3 separate regions of the Homo sapiens genome follow, and regions 1 and 3 are each linked to region 2. The links come from fine-mapping of genetic effects on gene expression. Tissue or cell type: tibial artery. Region 2 holds a variant in brackets; each other region holds the start of a gene. All regions are shown on one strand. Distances are between the middles of the regions.

Region 1 (7,909 bases), 170 kb before region 2:
CTTGTTTCCAATGCTGTAAAAAGTATAAAGTAGGATAAAGTTTGGGAAATATGCCTTAGTATAGTGCCTAGAAGATGGTGGGTGATTAAAAACTGTGGAATCTGAGTCTAGATGTAGTCCGGCTGTCACGTAAAACGTCAAAGTAAAACATCGTCAGCTCAGACCACAAGCCTGCTCTCTGCCCTCTGGACGGTGCTGCCTGGACGCGCTCTTTCCAGCCGAGTCAGCCAATAATGCTTGAGGTCCTCGGTGGTGCAGAACCCAGCCCCTTGTGGAAATTTGTCAAAATGACCATAAGCAAATGCTTCTTCTCATCACCTACCTTCTTGAGAAACTGATCTACTCACCGTGTTCGACATTATCATGAATGAAAGTGGAAATTACGCAGGAGAGAAAAGACAAGCAACCTAGAAGACAAAAGAGGTAAAGGTGACATTTTCCATACTTTTCAAAATATTATGGAGGAGATTGGCCTAAAGAATCTATACTTTGCCACAGGAACAATAATGAATAAGCCTCGAATGTGGGTTATTTATCAATCAAGAGAATATCTTGTTGTTGCTGGGGTTTTTTGTTTGGTTTTGTTTTTTGTTTTTTTTGTAAGCAGGTGAATAGAGAGATCTCTGCTATTGTTCTGGGAAAGTGGCTCAGATAAAGCAAAACAGAAGATAATCCTTTGCCAAAGTGAGGAAGACCAAAAGATAGCTATAAGTAGGCTGATCACATAATTGATCATTCAGACGAGGAGACTAAAGGGATGATATTAATAATTAGGCCTGGACAATGGCTGTAGGCCAGGGCTGCCCTGGAGCTCTGTAGACTGATGGTCACCCTAGCTTACAGGGTCATGAAAGAGGAAGAGTGCAAGGACTTTCCAGTTATCTCTGAACATTATCAGGGCTGTTGGGTTACAAGCAACAGAAACCCATTTGATTATGGGGTTGCGGGGAGGTTAAGATTGATTGGAAGGATGGTGATGAGAGGAGGGTCTCATAGACTCAAAAGGAAACTGGAGAACTCTCCGGGAAAGAACAGGAAGCAGCTGCAGGGACCTGGGTGGCACGCACCAGGAGTTGGTGGCTGTTGTTGTCAGGCGCTGCCTCCAGCATGAGTCGGCTCTCCCACAGTCCATCTATGCAGGGTTCTTTTCAATCCAGATTCTCAGCAAGAGGCCCCAACTGGCCTGGCTTAGCTCAGGGGCCCACTCTTTGGCCCCTGAGGGCAGACACCTTGACTAATTCTCCCAACAAGAACGTGCACTGGGGACTGGGTAGTTCCCCAGAGCAACATCAGAGAAGAGGAGAAGTGGGTGAGCTGGTGAAACCAGCAGAAGCCACGGCACTTGATGACCAAGAACCTCAGCTGACCTCCCTTTGCTCCCCAAACAGCACTTCACCTGCATCACAGCCATGGCTATGTTCATCCATTCACCAACAAGCATCTCCTGTGCAGTCGCCATATGGAGAGAGGCGTTAGCCGTTTCTGAGAGACAGCAGTGAGCAAAATGCACACGATCCTTGCCTCATAGAATTTCCATTCCACTTGGGCAGACAGGTTTTTCTTTGCCTTTTAATTGCCTTAATTGGACTTTTTAATTGCAAAAGTATTAATAATATATGCTTGTTGTAACTAGTGAACCAATACAATGACAGGAAAGAAAAATTTAACATAGCTGCATAATATCACTTTTTCTTTTTTTGAGACAGGGTCTTGCTCTGTTGCCCAGGCTGGAGTGCAGTGGTGTGATAAAGGCTCACTGCAGCCTCAATCTTCTGGGCTCAAGTGATCCTCCCACTTCAGCCTCCCCAGTAGCTGGGACTACAGGTGTCCGCTACCACACCTGGCTAATTTTTTAATTTTTCTAGAGCCAGGGTTGCCCAGACTGATCTATATTGCCCAGACTGGTCTTGAACTCCTGATATCAAGCAATCCTCCTGCCTTGGCCTCCCAAAGTGCCAGGATTATGGGCATGAGACACTGTTTCTGGCCGCATAATATTTCATACAGTGAATGCATCATTATTTATTAAAATATTCCTCTGCCAAGTCATTGAGGTTATTTCCTATATTTTATTCCCATAATAAAAACAATGGGAACAATATGCATACACATTATTATGGCAGTTTGTGTACATGTGTGTATACATATATCTATACATGTTACCTATATCTGCATCTGTATATATATGTATGTATGTGTGTATATATATATATATATATATATATCTTTGTGTTGCTGTTTTTATTTCTATGAAATAGTCTTCCAAGTGGTATAGTTATGTCAGAGATCTGTATCTTCAATTGAAATAGTTAATACCAATTCACTTGCCCCAAAATTGCAGCAATTAACATTCCTATCACCAATTTATAAGTGTTGTCATTTTTTTCACAACATCTTTAGTACTAGGTAGTATCATCGTATTTATTTTTGCCAAGCTGGTGAGTGTCAGATGGTTTCAGATTCTTACTTTAATTTGAACTTTCCTGGCTACCAGTGGGGTTGAGCATTCTTTTATCTATTTATTGGCTGTTTAATTTTTCTTTTCTGAAAACTGCCTAATCATAGGTTTTCCGCAATTTTCTACTGGGTTACTGTAGTCTCACTAGCATTTTTTAAGGAGCCCTCTATGTACTGGGGACACTAACATTTTGTCTGCCATACATGCTGCAGAAGTGTATCATTTGTCTTTTGACTTTGTTTATGGTAAACAAATTGTTTCATTAGTATGAAAATATGTCCTGTGTGTGTGTGTGTGTGTGTGTGTGTGTATTTCCTTTGCCAGTCTCTAATTTGAAAACATATCTGGGGCCAGGCCCAGTGGCTCATGCCTGTAATCCCAGCACTTTGGGAGGCCAAGGCAGGTGGATCACCTGAGGTCAGGAGTTCAAGACCAGCCTAACCAATATGATGAAACCTTGTCTCTACTAAAAATACAAAATTAGCTGGGTGTGGTGGCGCATGCCTGTAATCCCAGCTACTTGGGAGGCTGAGGCAGGACAGTCACTTGAACTCTGGAGGTGGAGGTTGCAGTGAGCCAAACTCTCACCATTGCACTCCAGCCTGGGAAACAAGAGCGAAACTCTGTCTCGAGGGGAAAGAAAAAAGAAAAAGAAACGTGTCTGGGTACAAACATGGCCCTGGTGTTTGTACCCAGCTGCTGGTGTCTTCATCTGCAATTGCATCCATGTATGCATGTGTGTTAAGAGCATCTTTGGCTGTTCAACCAGCTTTCAGAGGTGCACTTGAGTTTACAGCAATGTGTGTTTTCCTTGATGGCTGAGTTTCCACCTTGCGTGAGGCTTCTCCCACCTCAGGTAACACATACATGCTTTTCTGATCCCTTTACCTCACAGGAGCCAGGATGATGAACTCCTCAGCTTAAAGCCCTTCACCAGCTTCCCACTGCCCTAGACATAGACCCCCAAATCCTCAACGTGGCCTTAAGGAATCTGAGAAGAGAGAAGAGGGTTCCATTCTAAAGCAGACCTGGTCAGCACAGAATAAACCCCACACGGGACTCGCTATGCCCACAGAGCACCGCTTCAGTTACAGAGAGAGGGAGGCTGGGGTTTGCACTCAGCTACCCAAAGCTCCTGCTTTCTTAGATCAATATCTAAGAACTTTTTTAGCTGATCTTGAAATCCAGAGACATCTCAATGGCCTGGAAATGTGTTCTTTTTTCATCCCACCAGGCAATCTGCCCCTTCGTGTGTTTTGAGAGCCTGTGCCAAGGTCCCTGTGGGCGGGCAGGAGCTACCTACAATGGTCTCTCAGCTCCCAGACCCCTCCTGATTCCCTAAACTCCCTCCCTGCCAAGTAGACCAGAGGCACCCAAGTCTAACACTGGGTCTAGACAGGTGCTAAGACAGCACCTGTCACTAGGACACATTTCTTGGTCTCTGAAGTGGCTGAAAAATACCCATTGTACTTACCGTTCCAAAGCCCTTTTGCCCACCACAGGCGTGTTTACAGGGGAAGTGTGCTGAGTGGAGGAACTCCCATCACACTGGCCTCTGAGTTACAGGAGAGCTGGGGGCGCCTTCTGAGCCTGAAGCCTGGAAGCGCTCATCACATCTGGGGCTCCCCCTTTTCTTCTTATGGGCCAAGGTGCTTTGACAGGGGGAGCTTGCCTTGGTTTCCTGGGTGGTTGTGAGCACCACGGCAACGGCAGGGAAGCTTCCAAGCACTTCCTGTTCCAGGGCCAGGTTTCAACTCAGGCTCGGGCTGTGTCCAAGGCCCTGGCTGATGGGGAGAAGCTGTGAGTGATGGCATCTCAGAGACCAGTGTGGGTGCCATGTGCCTCCATTCCTGTTCCTCACAGCACCTGGGGCAACCCAGGGCACAGCCTCAGTGAGAACCAACCCCCAAATCTTCAGGCTTCATCTGTCAAAGGAGAAGATTAGACTAGAAGCTTCTCAGATGCCTCCCAGCTCTGGCATTCTGGGGTGCTCTATTTCTAGCATTTTCTATCTGTGTTTTGACAAACATATTTCAATAAAAATTGAGCATTCCGCATTATTAAAAGCTATGCCTAATGAAGTACTTTGCTGATGATGATTTTTAATGCTGCTCTCTCTGGGAGCTAAGGACTGCCTAAAAGTCAAGGACAAGACCAAGAGCCTTCAAGCTGGCATCCAGAGTGGAAATGTTTGGGATTTGTTTGTTTTGTTTTGCTTTTTTTTTTTCTCTGAGATGGAGTCTCACTCTATCGCCCAGGCTGGAGTGCAGTGGTGTGATCTTGACTCACTGCAACCTCCGCCTCCTAGGTTCACCGGGTTCAAGCAATTCTTGTGCCTCAGCCTCCTGAATAGCTGGGATCACAGGTGCCCGCCACCACACCGGCCTAATTTTTGTATTTTTAGTAGAGACAGGGTTTCACCATATTAGCCAGGCTGGTCTCGAACTCCTGACCTCAGGTGATCTGCCCACCTCGGCCTCCCAAAGTGCTGAGATTACAGGTGTGAGCCACCGCACCTGGCCCTAAGTGCAATCTTACAGTGTCCTCAGCGACGTGGCCTGTGAAGCCCATGACCCAAACTAGGGGATGGGGAGGTGGAGGCCATGTGGGTCAGAGTCACATGGGTCACCACGGGTCCATCAAAGGCCTGGACCACCACCCCAGGGATCACAGAAATCCCTAGTTACAGTAATAGGAACCAGGAGGCAGTACAGCTTTTAAGACCCAAGGCCAGCCTCTCCTAGGCCACATACATCCTAAAGTAAAACGGGAAAGTAGCTGCGCTGCCTCCTGTGGCTGTGATCTAGAAACTACGAAACACTCTATAAATGGGAGGTACCCCTGAATTTGTCTCCCGCCTCAGCCCTCAAATCCTGTGATTCTACTCCTCCCAACACCATATTCTGCTTTGCACAGAAGCCGATCGCTGTGGAATGTTCTGTGAGTGGCTTACCCATCTCTGCATCCCCAGAGCCCAGCAACCAAACTTGGACTTTAGAAAGTGCTCAATAAACATCTCTGGAATTGGGTAATTGGATGTCCTAGTCCATAACCACCACTCTGCCTGTGTACCTGCTTGAGTGCCACATGCATAAGTGTGCACATGTGATTATGTATGCATAGGTGTGTGTGTCTGCTTCTGTGTTTGAGTACGAACATGGCCCTGGTGTTTGTACCCACCTATGTCCTCATTTGCAATTGCATCCATGTATGCACGTGTGTTAAGAGCATCTTTGGCTGTTCTAGTAGCTTCCAGAGGTGCACTTCAGCTTAGAGCGATGTCTCTTGGTTGTGCCTTGGATTTTGGGTTTGAGAGTGAGACGACAGGGTTTCATGGTAGTATACAACTGATCCCAGCAACTGCCACCGGGTTGGAGAAGCAGCTGATTGTCAGGCTTTTGGTGTTTAGTAGCAGCAGCAGCAGCTGGTGCTGCAGACAGGATTTGAGGTGGGGCCCAAAGGAGTCCACTGGTGCTCACCTCTCAGCCTAGCTCTTCTGGAGATCAGGAGGTAGGGAGGGACGTGCACAATGAGAGAACCAGTGGGAGAAGAATGTAGGCGACAAGGGGCTGAAGACACTGGCATGTCTTAGACAGGGGGGTTAGGAACCCAGTTCAGGGTCTGCCCACCATCCCTAGACGCTCAGGGGCAGCATGAGACCGGAAGCAGGCCTCTAACAACTGTTGCAGGGGCCTCAGGAGCCAGAGGCCGAGGCTGCATTCCTGAGCCAGGTGTGGGCCCTCTCTCATGCTTGAAAAACAAACACTTGTTGTTAATTTATTTTCCTTTTACAAACGCAATGCATTTACAGGCACAAATTCAGAGGCAAAAATTCTTAACAATAAAAATCATTTGGATTCCACAGCCGAATTCAGCACCATTAATAGTACATTGACATTTTGTATGTATACACACATTTTTGAAAATGCGGTCCTACTGTACTCTTTAACATGAGTTGTTCACTAAGTGTTAGACGCTTTCTCCTGCATTTTTGTACATGACTGTTAATGGCGACACTGTGCTTTTTTTTTGAGACGAAGTCTCGCTCTTGTCCCCCAAGCTGGAGTGCAGTGGCGCAATCTCGGCTCAATGCAACCTCCGCCTCCCGGGTTCAAATGATTCTCCTGCCTCAGCCTCCCCAGTAGCTGGGATTACAGGCGCCTGCCACAACACCTGGCTAATTTTTGTATTTTTAGTAGAGACAGTTTCACCATGGATGCTGTGCCTCTTGATGCAGAGGCAGATGGGGATTAGGGTAACCAGCCCCTTCTGCTGGACATGCGGCAGCTGGAGGTGCAGCCCACCCATCAGGCTGAGCTCCCCTCCGGGGCAGTGACAGAGGCTCATCCAGGCACCCACGCATGGCTGTGCACACACAGCTGCTGTGCACCTTCTCTCTTCCCCGACCATCATGTTGCTCTCCACTCCCCCTCGAGTCTGGTCCATGGCTTCCCTCCTAGCCCGGTGCCAAGAACATGGGGGCGGAGAGGGGCTGAGCAGAAGTCTGTGTACAAATGGACAGATTTCCTCTCTCTACGCTGCTCCTTCCCCTCCACCCCAAAGTTTTCCCTGCTAACTGTCCCTGGAATGTGGGACCCCATGTAAGATTTCAATTAACAAGTTTGAAAGACATTATTACCCTGGACCAGCTTGACATCCCACCTGCTCCACCATGGGCCAACCTAGGGATGCCCTCCAGGTATCACTTCTAGAGTGCAGCTGAGAGCGGGCCCCCTCTAGTGGCCACTCTGGGGAAGCGTCCCAGGATGCCACGCTCCCATCAGCCCCTAGGCAGAACCCTGGCCTTGGCTGAATCCATCGCTTTCTGCAGGGTCTAGTTCAAGGATCCGGGGCCTTCAGCTCACCCCCAGAACTCTCAACACATACATCCCCCACAGATCTCCCAGGAGCTGAGCTACTGTCCAAAGTCAAAGGCAGCAAATACAAATAAATGGAAATAGCTTTCAGCATGTTTCCCTGAGAGCCCTTTCCTGATGGTGTCAGTAACTGAGCCCCTTGGGCCCAGCCCATGAAGCAGCCAACAAGCTGGAAATCTGAAGAGCAAAGGTCATCAGTGACTCAGACATCAAATGTCGCTGAGCACTGCCCTTAGCTGGAAATACCTTATGCCAAAATCTCCTGTGTCACAGTTCCAGGGGGATTATGAAGGGATATCCATCTTCTTCTTGCACACTCAGGGATGGGGAGCTCATTACCTTGCCAGAGAGCCCATTTCAGCCCACTCCATCCAGTCACCCATATGGGGAGGTGGTGGAGTACACTGAAAAGAACACCCAATTCTGACCTGGTTCTGACTGGCTATAGCTGTGTGACCCTGGACACATCCTTAACCTCTATTGATGAAAAAAGAAAATCCGGAGCCTCAGTTGGCCTGGAAGATTGGACAGTCTGTGCCTGAGAGCCCCAGTGCACCCAGCCAGGGTCCAGGCT
Region 2 (7,909 bases):
TGAGGAACTTTCCTTCTTTCTTTCTTTTTTTTTCTTTTTCCTAGAAGGAATAGTGCTTTAGTCTTCTGAGCTAAGTCCTCACATTCCATGATGGGCTGTACAAGCAGCAAGATACATTCCTGAACTGCAACCCAGCAAAACTTGGTTACAGGGCGAGGAGGCATATTTGTAGAAGGGATTCAAGCCTCCTAAAAATTCAGCCATTACCTCCACCCATGCTAAGAGGAAATGTCAGCCTGAACCCAAAATATACACAAGGAAATGTGTGGGGGCAGCTCTGCACACGGCTCTCAGCCTCAGCCAGAATTTCTAGATGTGGCCTCGGCATTTTCCCTGAGGGCACACAGAGCCCAGTTCACACAAGCCAGGTCTGCACTGCTCGGACAGACGTGTGTTCCATGAGCCAAAGTGCTGACGGCTGGTCTCACAAGCCAAATGTACCTGGCCAGGCTCTCCCAGGGGCCAGTGTGCTCCTGCACTTGAACTTGGCCTAGTCCCAATTTAAAATAAGCCTTCGACTAAATAGGAAGCAATGCCCTGCCTGCTGTACCTTCTCTGGCAGAAAAACAACTTTCTCTAGGAGACAGTCAGATGTCCAAGTGACATCAGGGCAAAGGTGAAAAATAAACTATTTGATGGATCAGCCGCAGTAGTGTGAGGGTTTGGCAGGGCCAGGAGTGAGGCGCGGTTACGGGGTTCAGTTCAGCCTATGCAGTGGGCTTGATGATGTAGATGTCTTATGCTGCAACAAAGAAGCATCTGAGAGCCGAGTTGGTTTGATCTGCTTCTGCAGGCCTTAGGCCAGCTGTTCCGTGTTGTGTAGAAATACCTGGCGAACTTTGAAAATGTACTACCCCCAGGCTACACCCGCATATCCATTAAACCGGAAGCTCTGGGGGTGGCATCTAGGCATCAATATTTTTTTTAAGCTCTGTGGGAGTTTTCAGTGTGCAGCCAATGTTGAGAAGAGTGCCCCAGACCCCTTGCTACTTAAAGGGTGGCCCATAAACTGCCCAAACCGACGGGTGAAGCGTCACACAGTACCTTGTAGTAGGCAATACCGTCTAGGTCTGCGTAAGCACACTTTATGATGTTTGCACAATGATGAAATCGCCCAACAATGCATTTCACAGAGCAGCTCCCCATCATTAAGCAATGCATGACTGTAAAGATTCCAACTCAGCAGGCCTCGGGTAAGCACCTGAGACTCTGCCTTTTTCTTTTTTCTTTTTTTTAAAAAAAGGATGGGGTTGGCTGGGTGTGGTAGCTCACGCCTGTAATCCCAGCACTTCGGGAGGCCAAGGCAGGCAGATCACAAGGTCAGGAGATCGAGACCATCCTGGCTAACACGGTGAAACTCCATCTCTACTAAAAATACAAAAAAAAAAAAAAAAAAAAAAGCTGGGCATGGTGGCAGGCACCTGTAGTCCCAGCTACTTGGGAGCCTGAGGCAGGAGAATGGCATGAACCCAGGAGGCGGAGCTTGCAGTGAGCCGAGATCACACCACTGCACTCCAGCCTGGGCGACAGAGCAAGATTCTGTCTCAAAAAAAAAAAAAAAAAAAAAAAAAAGATGGGGTTTTGCCATGTTGCCCAGGCTGGTCTCGAACTCCTGAACTCAAGTGATCCTCCAGCCTTGGCCTCCCAAAGTGCTGGATTATAGGTGTGAGCCACCCTGCCCAGCTAAACACAATCATTCTACAAACATTTGTTGAGGGGCTACTATGTGCAGCCCACTGTGCTAAGGACTGGGGACCAGGCACAGTCCCTGCCATTGCAGGGGACTCCTTCCAATAGTGATAGATGTTCCTTGGGTGATACATGTGCCAGCTCTGGTCAAGCATTTCCAGTGCACTATTTCACTGAATCCTCATGAGGTAAGTATTAATTTTATACTCATTTTGCAGGTGAGGAAACTGAGACCTCATGAGACTAATATGACAAATGTCCTACAATGAATAAGCAGCAGATTTGAACCCAGATCTGTCCAGCTCAAAACACCCAATCTCTTCTGCAAATGAGAAAATCTGATTCACCAAACTGTAATACACTTGCCCCTGTCTTAAAATTATTGTCAGGCTACAGAAAGGAACCTCGCTACTCTGGTGGGAGGTAGGGGTACTCCTGGGGAGTGGAAGGGTCGGGAAGGCTTCACAGAACAACGTTTGTCTGAGCCTCTTGAACCAGAATGTGGTCCCATCACAGGCTACAAGTAGAGGGAGGGGCAAGGCAGGCAGAGGGGTCACCCAGAGACATGGGCACATGGGTCTGGCCAACATCTCTCAGCCACACTGGAGTTCCTGCCTCTTATGTCTTTACAGTCTGGGCCTGCTTCTGCACTTACACCTTTCTCCACATTTTTATACCAAAGGAAAAGGGGTTAAGAAGAGAAGACAACAGTCGGGCGCTATAGCTCATGCCTGTAATCCCAGCACTTTGGGAGGCTGAGGCGGGCAGATCACTTGAGGTCAGGAGTTCGAAACCAGCCTGGCCCACATGGTGAAACCCCGTCTGTACTAACAATACAAAACAGTTAGTCAGGTGTGGTGGTGCGTGCCTGTAATCCCAGACACTTGGGAGGATGAGGCAGGAGAGCTGCTTGAACCCAGGAGGTGGAGGTTGCAGTGAGCTAAGATCGGGCCACTGCACTCCAGCCTGGCCAACACAGCAAGACTCCATCTCAAAAAAAAAAAAAAAGGAAGAGAAGACACAAAATGGCCTTTGTTAGACCTTAGAGCCAGTGGCTTTTCAGGACCTTTCCTTCTCAGAAAGGAGCAGGGAAGAGTTACAGCTTTCCTCTTAGACTCAGTCACAGTCCCCAAATGCAGAATGCAAAGAGAGTTTCTTTTTTTTTTTTTTTGAGACAGAGTCTCGCTCTGTTGCCCAGGCTGGAGTGCAATGGCACGATCTCGGCTCACTGCAAGCTCCGCCTCCCAAGTTCAAACGATTCTCCTGTCTCAGCCTCCCGAGCAGCAGGGACTACAGGCGCACGCCACCACGCTTGGCTAATTTTGTATTTTTAGTAGAGACGGAGTTTCGCCTTGTTGGCCAGGCTGGTCTCAAACTCCTGACCTCAGGTGATCCTCCTGCCTTGGCCTCCCAAAGTGCTGGGATTACAGGCGTCAGCCACTGTGCCCAGCCCCAAAGAGTTTCTGAAAGCAAAAGTGTCACCCCAGGAGAGGCAATTTTCTACATTCCATTTTTACAGAATCCTCTCCATTGAAGATAAAATATGAACTAAATGAGAGGTATACACAACACTTCAACAGAAGCCTGGTAGTTCCTAACACATAAGCTTCCCATCTTCTTGAAAAAACAAAACTAAACCCTGCAGTGATCATTAAGTCGTTTTATCTCCCACAAATTTATAGCCCACTTGTAAAGAAACAGAGTTAAGCTGAGTTAAGCTGTAGCCTCTGTGCTTTGTGGCCCTGGCTTTCCTTTGCTTGGCTGACAGCATTTGCAGGAGGGTTGCCGAAAAACCACCAGCAAAAGCCAGTTGGGCCAGTGCTTGCAGCTTCTTTAATTCACCACAATTTGGGAAGTATGTGGATGCTGCTGGGGAGGACAGACTCAGATTAGAGTTCAACAGGAGAACGTTCTGCTGAAACTGGAGTTTTATCTCCTTCCAGCTGAGTGTGTCAGAAGGAGACTATGAATGACTATGAATGCCCAAGCCAGGCATGAGGTGGTACCTCATCTCAAAGGTGAGCTTCGCTGCTACCCAGCCTCAGGTGCCAGAGGAGCATCTGCCCAGCCATCCTTCATAGGTGGCCTGGAAAGGCAGTCTGGTCTGGGGTTGAGACTTAAGCCCAGGCTCGGCACTCACACTCTGCTCCAAATTCTCAGTCTGCCAACTCTGGCCATGTGTATGTTTCAATACCAGCTGCTTCGTCACTTGCCAGGAACAGTCT[A/G]CTCCTCCAGCTATTATGTTATGGCGTCTGGCAGGCAGGGCCAGATGACTTTTCACCCTGCCCTTTCCTCTAGGGGTTTGGAATGGGCTCACAGCTCAAAATATCATGCCAAAATTGTCGAGGCGGTTTGTCCCATGAGATGTGCTCAGCACAGCCAGGCTCACCACACAGGCGTACTCCCACCCACTAATGTTAGCTTGCAGCCTCTCTGCAGCCGCTCCTGGCAAGAGGTTAACCCCAAAGCCCTAGATTCCACAAGGAAGGGAATGCATTCCCCACGGGTGCCAGATGGCTCCACTTCGCATCCTATACAATATTGCAACACGGAGAGCCACCCCCATTGGGAGGCTGAGGCTACAGGACGAGAAGAAGCATTAGAGGGTAGTGGCACATTCCAACAAATCCAGGCCAGATGTACGTGAACTCTATGAGCCCGTGTGTAAAAACACAGGTACCTACCATTAATCTACCTTAAGAATAGTCTTATCATCATTTAAGTGATGATGGTAATATTAATGATAGTAGCAATAAAAACAGTAACCTCTGGTACCTCAGTGCTTACTGCATGCCAGGTGGGCACTTTGCTAAGCTTTTCACACGTTATTTTTTACATAACTCTCTGTGGTGGACCCTAGCATTATACACATCTTTCAGGCAAGAAACTTAGGGTGGCTAAGGAACTTGCTCGAGGGTAAAGAGTCTAATAGCAGAGCCGTGAGTTAGACGCAGCCACCTGCCTCCAAAGTGCTGTCTGACCTCGTTTTTCAGGACAGGAACCCTCAGACTCACCTGATAGCTAGTTGTGTTGAATTATGTAGCAAACACGTATGCAGCGCCTAAGGTGCCTCATGCAAGGTATCAGGTGCTGGGTAACCAAGAGCCATGCCCTGCAAATCTAACATTCTCCAAGAAACAAGATCATAGCTTATTCTCTTAGCCAGAGGCCAAGACCAGCTCTCTATCAAAATGGCCACAAACATATCCATGCAAACATTTCTAGAAAGACAACCTAGGATCATGATGTCCAACTTCCTGATCCTACAGGGTACATAGCGAGCAGACAGGAGCCCGTGAACAGCTGACTCCTCACGTGTGTGCTGGGCCCTGGGCTGGGAGTCAACAAACCACATCTGTCACTCACCTGCCCCACATCAACCTACCTACCTACCCACCTAACCATTTACCCCAAACCTCTTTCTAGCAGAGGAGCGTGTACCCAGCGTGTCCTGAAAGCCCATCTCAGCTCTTCCCCGGTGAGAGAGCCCTCGGCTTCTCCTTCCAAGTGCCTGGCTTGGGTGCACATTTGCTGGGTGGCTGCTGAGCTGGCTGTGGGGATGGAGTTGCCCAGAAGCCCCCCTGCAGCTCAGGGACCTTGTCCACGAAGTCTCCACTGCAAGCTGACTTTGTGTCGGGTGTGCCGTGTCTCATCTCATCTTCTCCCCACTGTAACCCTCCTTTACCCCCAGGAGACATTGTCAGCCCCATTTACCTGCAAAGAAGCTGAGGCTTGGGGCAGTCCTAATAGCACCCAGCATCACCCCTCCAGTGGGAGCCAGGATTTAAACTCCGGCCGCCTACCAACCCTAGCCTCCAGCTTGATCTCATCCTCAGCCTCATTTCTCCTCCCTCCTACTCCCAGGGCCCTCCCCGTCCCCTGGGGCCACTTCAGAGCCCCGCTCTTCTCCCACCGAGTGTACTCCTGGCCTGAAAACTGAGTGCTGACCCAAATCCACTGTGCATTGGGGTCCTTGCTAGGCGCACCCTGCCCTCTCTCGGGACATAGACTCCCTTCCCCTGAGTTTCTTCTTCTTTCTTCTTTTCTCCTCCTTCTCCTCCTCCAACTCTTCTTCTTTTTCTTCTTCCTCCTTTTCTTTGAGACAGTACCTCACTCTGTCACCCAGGCTGTACCCAGGAGTACAGTGGTATGACCTTGGCTCACTGCAGCCTCGACCTCCTGGGCTCAAGCGATCCTCCCACCTCAGCCTCCTGAATAGCTGGGACCACAGGCATGTACCACCACACCACGCTAATTTTTCTTTTTCTTTTTGTAGAGATGGAGTCTCACTATGTTGCCCAAGCTGGTCTCTAACTCCTGGGCTCAAGCAATCCTCCCACCTCAGCCTCTCAAAGTGCTGAGATTATAGGCATGAGCCACCGTGCCCAGCAACCAGGCAAGTTTTTATTCCTAAACACCCTCGGCCAGGCTTGCAAAAGGAAAGGGCATTAAGAGCATCAGTAACTAGACCTGTTCCAGTGCCTTCCCTGGAAAAAGAAACACTTTCACAGTCTACATCTGAGTCATCAGGCTGCTAAAATATTTAACACTGGACTAACAGGCATTAAGAAAGCAGAGAAGAAAGAAGGGGCTGAGATGCTGTAAGCTGGGGCCTGTTCCTCATCCTGCCAGGTTTTCGGGACAAGAACAGTGCAGAGACATCAGTGGAAAAACCACATGTCTGCCCATTTGGGCTCCCTCCCAGTCTGGTGAGGGGCAGTCTTTTTTTTTTTTTTTTTGAGACGGAGTTTTGCTCTGTCGCCCAGGCTGGAGTGCAATGGCGCGATCTCAGTTCACTGCAACCTCTGCCTCCTGGGTTCAGGTGATTCTCCCACCTCAGCCTCCTGTGTAGCTGGGATTATAGGCATGCACCACCCTGCCCAGCGAATTTTGTATTTTTAGTAGAGACAGGGTTTTACCATGTTGGTCAGGCTGGTCTTGAGCTCCTGACCTCAGATGATCCACCAGCCTCGGCCTCCCAAAGTGCTGGGATTATAGGCGTGAGCCACCGCGCCTGGCCGGTAAGGGGCACTCTTGTAGGTGTGGCCACCGGGGGGTTTGTGGGCAGGGAGGGTTTGCCACAAGCGCTGCTGTCAGGAGCCAGTTCATGGGGCCATCCAGGGCTTCTTACAATGCCAGCTCAGATACGGGTGCGCAGGCCTGGATGTGAGGTCACATAGGTGAAGCCAAGCCCCCAGGTGCAATGGGAGGCCTCCTTGGGTGCAGGAAAGACACCTCCTGCTGATCCGCATTACTGGGCAGATGTGCCACGAACACACCTCAGCCTCCATTCTAGAGACACAACCACTTGGTCTCCCCACTTACAGAGCCAGCCAGCGGGAGGAAGGGGCGCCTAATACTCACCGAGCACCAGCAGGTGCTTGAGAAATGTCCAGGGCCTCACACACAGAGCCTCACCACACCCACTGGCTCTGATGGCAAGGATTAGCCTCTGACGTAATGCAAAGACACAGTGGCTTCCAGTTGGGTTGTCCTGTGTGGAAGCCACAGCCCCATGTGGGTATTTCACTATAAATTTCAATTAGTTGAAATTAAACAAAATTAACAATTTGGTTCCTTAGTGGCACCAGCCTCATTTCAAGTGCTCGCTAGCAGCCTGTGGCCAGCAGCGACTGTATTGGAGAGTGGAGACACAGGACATTCCCACCACTGAAGAACCGTCGGTGGACAGCGTTGCTGTAGGGAACAGGGCGCCTCCCCAGGACTCCACCTGGCTAGTAAGAGAATGATCAGCGTTCTGAACGTAGATCTGATGTCTGAAAAGCCTTGAGGTTCTAGTTCTAGTTCCAACTCTTATTAGCTTTTTGACCTTGACCAAGCCATGTCACCATTGGGAGCCTCCATTTCCTCATCTGGAAAAGGGGTACACAAACAGCACCCACCTACAGGTTGAGGTGAGAAAGAACCACGATGCTGCAGTGTGGAAGTACATTGGCCCAGAGTGGGGAATAAATGAAAGGAACTTATACAGAGCACTTGTGGCAGGTGCTCTCAATAAAGTGGCTCATTTAATTTTAACAGCGCTGTAAGGGAGTACTATTTGCTCCATTTTACGGGTGAGTCAAATGCCCCGCAAGGCGATGGCCCCAGGATCACAGAGCTAGAACCTGAGCCCTGTCAACTCTTGAGGCCTGTGCTTGTCACACCCTAGACCTCAGAATCATATGGTCTTTTCTCAAAAGCCTAGAAGCAGAATTGG
Region 3 (7,909 bases), 110 kb after region 2:
CTGTAGCCTGGGTGACAAATTGAGAACCTGTCTCCAAAACAAACAAACAAAAAACAAAAAACAAACAAACAAAAGCCCCGAAAGGAGGATATACATTTATGTGTAAATACTACATTATAAAGGCAATGATCTAAACCTAACCATACAATGTGCTACATTATAATATATAAATAATTCTTTCTGGAAACTCACATAAGAAACTAGTGACAGTGGGTGGACTCGGGAGCAGGGAAAGAGGAAGACTTCCCTCTCATATTTCTTTTCTAGTCTAGGGATTTTATCTCATGTGAATGTATAATTTTTCAGAGAAAATTTAAAAGGTAATCTAATTTTCATCGGAAATATTTAATTTTCAAAATTATTCTAGTATTCAGAGTGCAAATTCAAGTGACTACAACTCCTTTTTTTCACACATTTAAAAGTTAGTTGAGTTGTCTTCCTTAAGAAGACTGAGTTTTATAATAACTAAAATGCTGTAATACCAAAGGACCTCCCAGAGAGTTTTGTTTTGTTTGTTTGTTGTTGAGGCAGGGGTCTTGCAACATTGCCCAGTCTGTTCTTGAACTCTTGGCTCAAGGGATCCTTCCGCCTTGGCCTCCCAAAGTGCTGGGATTACAGGTGTGAGCTACCATGCCTAGCTTCCCAGAGAGTTTTGAATGAGGGTTCTGAAGGCTGGATGCTAAGTCTCGATTCAGCTATTTTTTCTTTCTTTTTTTTTTTTTTTAGAGACAGTCTCACTCTGTTGCCCAGGCTGGAGTGCAGTGGCACGATCTTGGCTCACTGCAACCTCTGCCTCCCAGGTTCTAGCAATTCTCCTGCCTCAGCCTCTGGAGTAGCTGGGACTACAGGTGCCCACTGCCACGCCTGGCTAATTTTTTGTATTTTAGTAGAGACGGGGTTTCGCCGTGTTGCCCAGGCTGGTCTCAAACTCCTGAGCTCAGGCAATCCACCCTCCTTGGCCTCCTAAAATGCTAGGATTACAGGCGTAAGCCACCATGCCCAACCAATTCACCTATTTTCTAGCAGTGACTTGGATCAATTGCCCAAGCACTAAGCACTTCCATTTCATCAGGCAGAAAAAGAGAATGATCCCACACTCCACCTTCTTCATAGGCCCAGCATGACTTAATCATGATGATGTACATAAAAGCCCTCCAAAAATGGAAAATCCCTATTCTAGAACTGAGTTGTTCTGTGCAATTACATTTTATAACTTTTCTTGAAGTTCTTGTGTAATTCTGCACTCAAATAACTTAAGTCAAATTTTCCTGTTGGAAAAAGCATTAAAGTAAAGGGGCCCCTACATAAAACCATGTGGCGTGTTTTCACATTAGCACTTTTTCGGCTCTTAAAACCTTCAGGTTTTTCACTTTCTCAGCATCACCTCTCTTGTGTACAAACTGCTTTCTTCCAAAAGAACAGCCTGGCATATCAGGGTGGGCTGTTCTGGGCCTTCTTCACAGCTTTCTACCACTTCTCACTTTTGTTCCCAGTTTATTGATCTGGGAACAGTTTTTTAGTACTCCCACTAGCACCAACACATAAAACGTGGGTGAAATGGTGATGCAGTTTGGCTGTGTCCCCACCCGGATCTCATCTTAAATTCCCACTTGTTGCAGGAAGGACCTGGTGGGAGGTAATTGAATCATGGGGGCAGGTCTTTCCCATGTTGTTCTCATGATAGTGAATAAGTCTCACGAAATCTGATGATTTTATAAGGGGAGTTTCCCTGCACAAGCTCTTTCTTTGCCTGCTGTCATCCATGTAAGATGTGACTTGCTCCTCCTTGCCTCCTGCCATGATTATGAGGCCTCCCCAGCCACACGGAACTGTGAGTCCATTAAACCTTCTTCCTGTGTAAATTGCCCATCTTGGGCATGTCTTTATCGGCAGCATGAAAATGGACTAATGCAAATGGCTTTGAGATATAAAAAAGTTTTAAATTACACTAAAGTCACAAGTCAGAGTTCCAATGTCTGTAAACAACAGTGCAGTTCCCATGATCCTGATGAAAACCTGCAGACATCTCTGTATACCGGCTGAGATGGTGCCACCATACAGCAACAGTGTGAGTGCAGTTTCTATCATTCACTCAGCTGCTCAGCTTTGAAATGATTCTTGACCAAAACATTCATTCATTAATTAGCAAAAAAGACTTATTTTTAATTTGAGATGTGAACTATTTCAAAACTTGCTCATAAAGTCAGGTTTGATTAATGTTATTTTATTTCATATTAGTTCCTATTTGCCCAGTTGAAATACACGTAAACACAACCTTGCTGAAAATCACTAGCATGTGGCGGACAGCGCAAAGAAAACAAAACATTTCCCAGGCAATGCTTAGAGCTCCTGATTATTTAAAAGCTCTGAGGGGAAAATAAATTTAAAGTAATGTTTGAAATGACAGTAAACAGGTGGATTTATAAAAATAAAAATATACAATGTTTAAGGTTCATTTATCTCCATACATAAAATAAATAAATAAAAGCCCTCTCTTTACTGAAGAAGACAGAACACACAAATGCAACTCCTTTCCTTTAAGAGACTTCATTAAAATGATAACAAAGGCATTTTTAAAAACAAGTAGGTCCAGATGAGGCGTAGTGGCTCATACCTGTAATTCCAGTACTTTGGGAGGCTGAGACAGGTGGATCACTTGAGGTCAGGAGTTTGAAACCAGCCTGGCCAATATGGCAAAATCATCTCTACTAAAAATACAAAAATTAGCTGGGCGTGGTGGCAGGTGCCTGTAATCCCAGCTACTCAGGGGGCTGAGGCAGGAGAATCGAGTGAACCTGGGAGGCAGAGGTTGCAGTGAGCCGAGAAGGCAACACTACACTCCAGCCTGGGTAACACAGCGAGTCCCTGTCTCAAAAACAAACAAACAAACAACAACAACAAAAAAACAGGTATGTCCAGACAATAATGTAATAATGTGGCAAACTGGAGAAGGCACATTAGCTGATGAGAGCTTTCTCCATGGTTGTGGGTAATGGAAAGCAGTGACGGCCTGGTAGTTGAGGAATTAGGGCAGAGGGGCATTAGACTAGAGTAGAAGGGGCTCCAGCCAAACAAGACTCTGCAGACCCTGGAGAGGGTCTGAAACACCAGGAACAATGGTGGGAACGTACTTGGGCAGAAAATTAAAAATAAGTGTCAATGGAATCTACCCTTTGCCCTGCCTGGCCCCGTGCCATAAGACAAAAACAAAATTGAAAACGAAAGCAAAACCTTTCCTATATCCTGATATTTAAAATTCTGGCAGTGTTTGGTGGCTCATACCTATAATCCCAGCACTTTGGGAGGCTGAGGCAGGAGGATCACTTGAGCCTAGGGGTTTGAGACCAGCCTGGCCAACACGGCGAGACCCCCATCTCTATAAAAAATAAAAAATATTAGCTGAATTTAGTGGCATGCACCTGTAGTTCCAACTACTTGAGAGGATTGCTCCTGGTGGGAGGATTGCGTTAGCCCGGGAGGTCGAGGCTGCAATGAACCATCATTATGCCACTGCACTCCAGCCTGGGCAGTAGAGCAAGACCCTGTCTAAAAAAAAAAATCCACAGAAGGTTGAAGGTAAATTTAATAAAATATCTCAAAAAACAGAATTAAAGAAATATTTAAAATATGAAAAAATATTAAAGGTCTGGAGAATCAAACTGTGAGGTCCCTATCTAAGTGACGGGAGATGCAGACATGACACAGAAAAGTAGAAGGAAGAAAGTGTCGAGGTGGTAACATAAAAATATTTCCCATGCTGCACATGCTGGCATGTGCTTGTGGTACCAGCTGCTTGGGAAGCTGAGGCAGGAGAATCACTTGAGCCCAGTAGTTCTGGGCTACAGTGAGCCATGATCATGCCACCGCACTCTGGCTTGGATGACAGAGTAAGAACCTATCTCTAAAAACATAAAAAAAAAAAATAAAATTAATTTAAAAAATAAAAATAAATCATAATTTTTTCCAAAGTTGAAAGACGCAAAAGGGCTCTCACTAGGTGCCTAGCACAGTAGATGAAAATACCTCATACAGTTCTGTGAGTTGGCTGGGCTCAGCCAGGCAGTTCTCACCTTGAGTGATGGTGCTCCCCAGCCACTGAACCTAAGAAGATAGGGTTTTCCTACCCTGTATTTTCAAGTAATGGGAATCAGAGCCAACTTCATTTTCCAGCCCTCTCCTCCTTACTTACCGCACTCCAGCTGTTACCAGTAGGGAATCTGATGTGTCTGCAGCAGCAACTCTATTCTTCCCTCCTCAGAGGAAAAAATTCGCCCAAGGGGCATAAGGTAGAGTAAGAAACCAAGATAACTTTTAGAGCAGGAGTGAAAGTTTTTAAAAAAGTTTTAGAGAGGAATGAAAGGAAGTAAAGTATACTTGGAAGAGGACCAAGCGGGTGACTTGAGAAATCCCAGTGCACTGTACAACCCTTAATGTGGGGTTTTATATGTTGGCACGGTTCTGGGATTTGCGTTTCTTCTCTCCTGATCCTTCCCTTGGAGCAGGCTGTCCACTTATGCAGTGGTCTGCCAGCACTTGGGAGTGGCCGCACTCACAGTGTGTTTACTGAAGTTGTGCGCGTGCTCATTTGAGGCATTTTTCCCTTGCCAGTCGAGAATTCCTAGAGGAAGGTCATATATTAGTTAAACTCTGACATTTTGCCCCTTAGGGCCCATGCTTGAGCCCACTTGCCCAACTCCTGAGATCTTATCAGGAAGCGGCTGACACTAGCTTCAGGTGTTTTCTATCTATTGGGAGCCGGCCTTTCCCTGGTGCTGGCTGCAACCAATGATGATTTTAGAGAAACAGTGTAACAACCACCTGACCATCACATGATGGTCGCCTGACATTCCTGGTTGGGGGTGGGGGTGGAATGCCCTCTGCTGCCCTTCTCATGTTCCCCTAGCTACCTACTCTAACACAGGTATGTATGCCTTTCTGAACTTTCTTGAATGTGTCAGACTTATTTTAACCCCAAAGACTTTTTTTTGCTATTGCCTTTGACTACAATATGACTTCCCTGTATTTTTGCATGACACATTACTCCTCACAATTCAAGTCACATCTCAAATGTCACCTCCTCAGGAAAGATGTTGTGCTGCTCATCACACCTAAAATAGCAACTTTCAGGTCGGGCACAGTGACTCATGCCTGTGATCCCAGCACTTTGGGAGGCCGAGGTGGGTGGATTACTTGAGGTTAGGAGTTCAAGACCAGCCTGGCGAACATGGTAAAACCCCCTCTCTACTAAAAAGACAAAAATTAGCCGGGCGTGGTGGCAGGTGCCTGCTATCCCAGCTATTTAGGAGGCTAAGGCAGGAGAACTGCCTGAACCCAGAGGTGGAGGTTGCAGTGAGCCAAGATCGCACCACTGCACTCCAGCCTGGGTGACAGAGTGAGACTCTATCTGGAGGGAAAGAAAAAATGCAACTTCTATTCTCCACCTATCCCTTTAGCCTATTTAAATTCTTCATAGCACTTACAATGACCAAATCCTTTTTTTTTCTTTTCTTTATTATCTGTCTCCTCCATGAGAGTAGGGACTTTGTCTTATTCATCATTATACAGATGGTTCTGGAGCCACCCAACAAGTTCTTCTTCCCCACTGCACAGACAAAAATCAATTCACTGAGACCATGGCATTGCAATAGAGAAAGAGTTTAACTGCCGCGAGGCTGAGCCCACGTGGGAGAACTGGAGTTATCCCTCAGATCAGTCTCCCTGTAGGCTCGGAACAAGGGTTTTTATGGACAATTTGGTTGTCAGGGGGTAGGGGGATAGTGCCGCTGATTGGTTGGGGATGAAATCATACCGGTGTGGAAAGCAGTCCTCATGCACTGAGTCTGCCTCTGGGTGGGGCCCCAGGACCTGTTGAGTCATGAGTCATGAGTCTGAGTGAGGTCAGTCTGAAAAACATCTTAAAAAACTCAATCTTGGCTGGGCGCGGTGGCTCACGCCTGTAATCCCAGCACTTTGGGAGGCCCAGGTGGGTGGATCACAAGATCAGGAGTTCGAGACCAGCCTGGCCAAGATGGTGAAACCCCGTCTCTACTAAAAATACAAAAACAAACAAACAAACAAACACCCCAATCTTAAGTTCTACAATAGTGATGTTACTTACAGGAGCAATTGGGAAAGTCACAGATCTTGTGAACTCTGGCCACATGACCCCTGGGCATTAAGGGACTATAGAAACTATGCCTACATTTTAGCAGAGTTCTGCCTTCTCCCATTATCCTATTCCTGTGGCCTTTCATTAGTCTTACAAAGGCGATTTTGGTCCCTGAGAAAGGAGGGGGTTAGTTTTAGGGAGGGACTATTATAATCTTTACTTTCAAATTAAACTATAAATTGAATTCCTCCCAAAGTTAGCTTGGCCTATGCCCAGGAATAACCAAGGACAGCTTGGAGGTCAGAAGCAAGATGAAGTCAACCATGTCACATTTCTGTTACTGTCAGTTCTGCAAAGGCAGTTTCCTTCCCTAACATAACAATAATTTGATGTAGATTTATCATAAGATGGCTCAAAAGAGAGAATGCATTCAGCAGAAACTGTACTTTGAGTATTCAAACAACTATTCTGTTTTTCAAATTCAGTACAGTATTCAATAAATTCTATGAGATTCAACACTTTGTCACAAACTAGGCTTTGTGTTAGGTGATTTTGCCCAACTGTAGGCTAATGCAAGTGTTCTCAGCACGTTTTAGGTAGGCTAGGCTATGCTACTTTAACAGCTACATTGTCTAGAGTATTTATGCTGGGGTTCCTTGTCTCACAATGAGAAAGAATTCAGGACACAGACACACGTGGGTGGGTTAAGAAGTAGAAAACTTAATAGAAGAAAGGAGAGAGAGAGAAGTCCAAAACGGGAGGCGGCGGACCGCAGCAGATTTTATAGGCAGGCTGGAAAAGGTGGTGTCTGATTTACGCAGACCTCATAGATTGGTACCATCAGGTATGACATTTACATAGCCCGCGAGGAAGACTGGCTGCCCCACCCTAATCTTATTATGTAAATGGACTCTCCAGTTGATCAGCACTATCTTGACTGCTCTTTAATACATTGTATGGTGGTCGACAAAGAGAAAGGAAGACAGAGCCACCATCTTGAACACATATAGTCCCTAGCTCCTGCCGGCATTCACCTGTGCAAGCTCCCAGCTTGCTTGTTTATATCTGCAGCTCAACTTTATAGGCTGCTCTTTGTTAAAAAACAATTTGGGGCTGCTTTTCATTAAGGATAAAAGCCTTACCAAGGACTTCCGTACCCTCACTATCTGCCCAAGTAATTTCTTCTTAACTCCCATATCCCTATGTTCAGTAGGTTAGGTGTGTTAAATGCATTTTCAACTTACAATACTTTTAACTTATGAAGAATTTACAGGGAGCACCTGTATCATTAGTGCCTAGAACATACTTGGAATGTTTGTTGAGTGAATGCTGGATCAGAATCTTGGCTGGGCATGATGGTTCATGCCTGGAATCCCAGCACTTTGGGAGGCCGCGGCGGGCAGATCACCTGAGGTCAGGAGTTTGAGACCAGCCTGGCCAACATGATGAAACCCCATCTCTACTAAAAATACAAAACTTAGCCAGGCATGGCGACCCGTACCTGTAATCCCAGCTACTCGGGAAGCTGAGGCAGGAGAATTGCTTGAACCTGGGAGGCGGAAGTTGCAGTGAGCCGAGATCACACTATTGCACTAGAGCCTGGGTGACAAAAGTGAGACTCCATCTCAAAAAAAAAAAAAAGAAAGAATCCATTTCAGGCAGACAATGGAACAATGCTTTTAAATTCCTGATGAAAAATTAGTTTCAGCTCAAAATTCTATATCCAGTCAAATCTTCAACTAAATGGAAAAGAAAAATAAAGACATTTTTTAGACTCATAAAACTAGCTTGCTTTACATC

Direction of the effects. Positions count from the first base shown, and alleles are read on the strand shown. Sizes are in standard deviations (SD) of each study's normalised expression. Not every link is listed here.
As copies of G replace A in region 2, the expression in tibial artery of the gene that starts at base 4,515 in region 3 goes up (moderate effect, 0.68 SD a copy in GTEx).

What was found. PIP is the estimated chance that this variant, and not a neighbour inherited with it, causes the effect.
Region 1: BTBD16 starts here. The variant in region 2 is fine-mapped to the expression of BTBD16 in tibial artery (GTEx, PIP 0.98).
Region 3: it holds the start of TACC2, and the variant in region 2 is fine-mapped to the expression of TACC2 in tibial artery (GTEx, PIP above 0.99). The same link has a PIP of 0.9 or more in aorta, breast, coronary artery, subcutaneous fat, tibial nerve and visceral fat.

What each region holds. Positions count from the first base shown.
Region 1 is chr10:122,267,538-122,275,446 of GRCh38, reverse strand. It overlaps BTBD16 (BTB domain containing 16), which reads right to left and starts at 4,151. Exons shown (of 16, transcript NM_144587.5): 1 at 3,933-4,151; 2 at 348-407. The coding sequence starts at 365. RefSeq lists an enhancer at 6,756-7,257.
Region 2 is chr10:122,095,215-122,103,123 of GRCh38, reverse strand. The region is part of intron 5 of TACC2 (transforming acidic coiled-coil containing protein 2); the gene reads right to left. Among named protein-coding and RNA genes, the nearest start is that of TACC2, 110 kb to the right of the region's middle. The variant A/G (reference allele first, on the strand shown) is at 3,915.
Region 3 is chr10:121,985,769-121,993,677 of GRCh38, reverse strand. It overlaps TACC2 (transforming acidic coiled-coil containing protein 2), which reads right to left and starts at 4,515. Exons shown (of 23, transcript NM_206862.4): 1 at 4,190-4,515.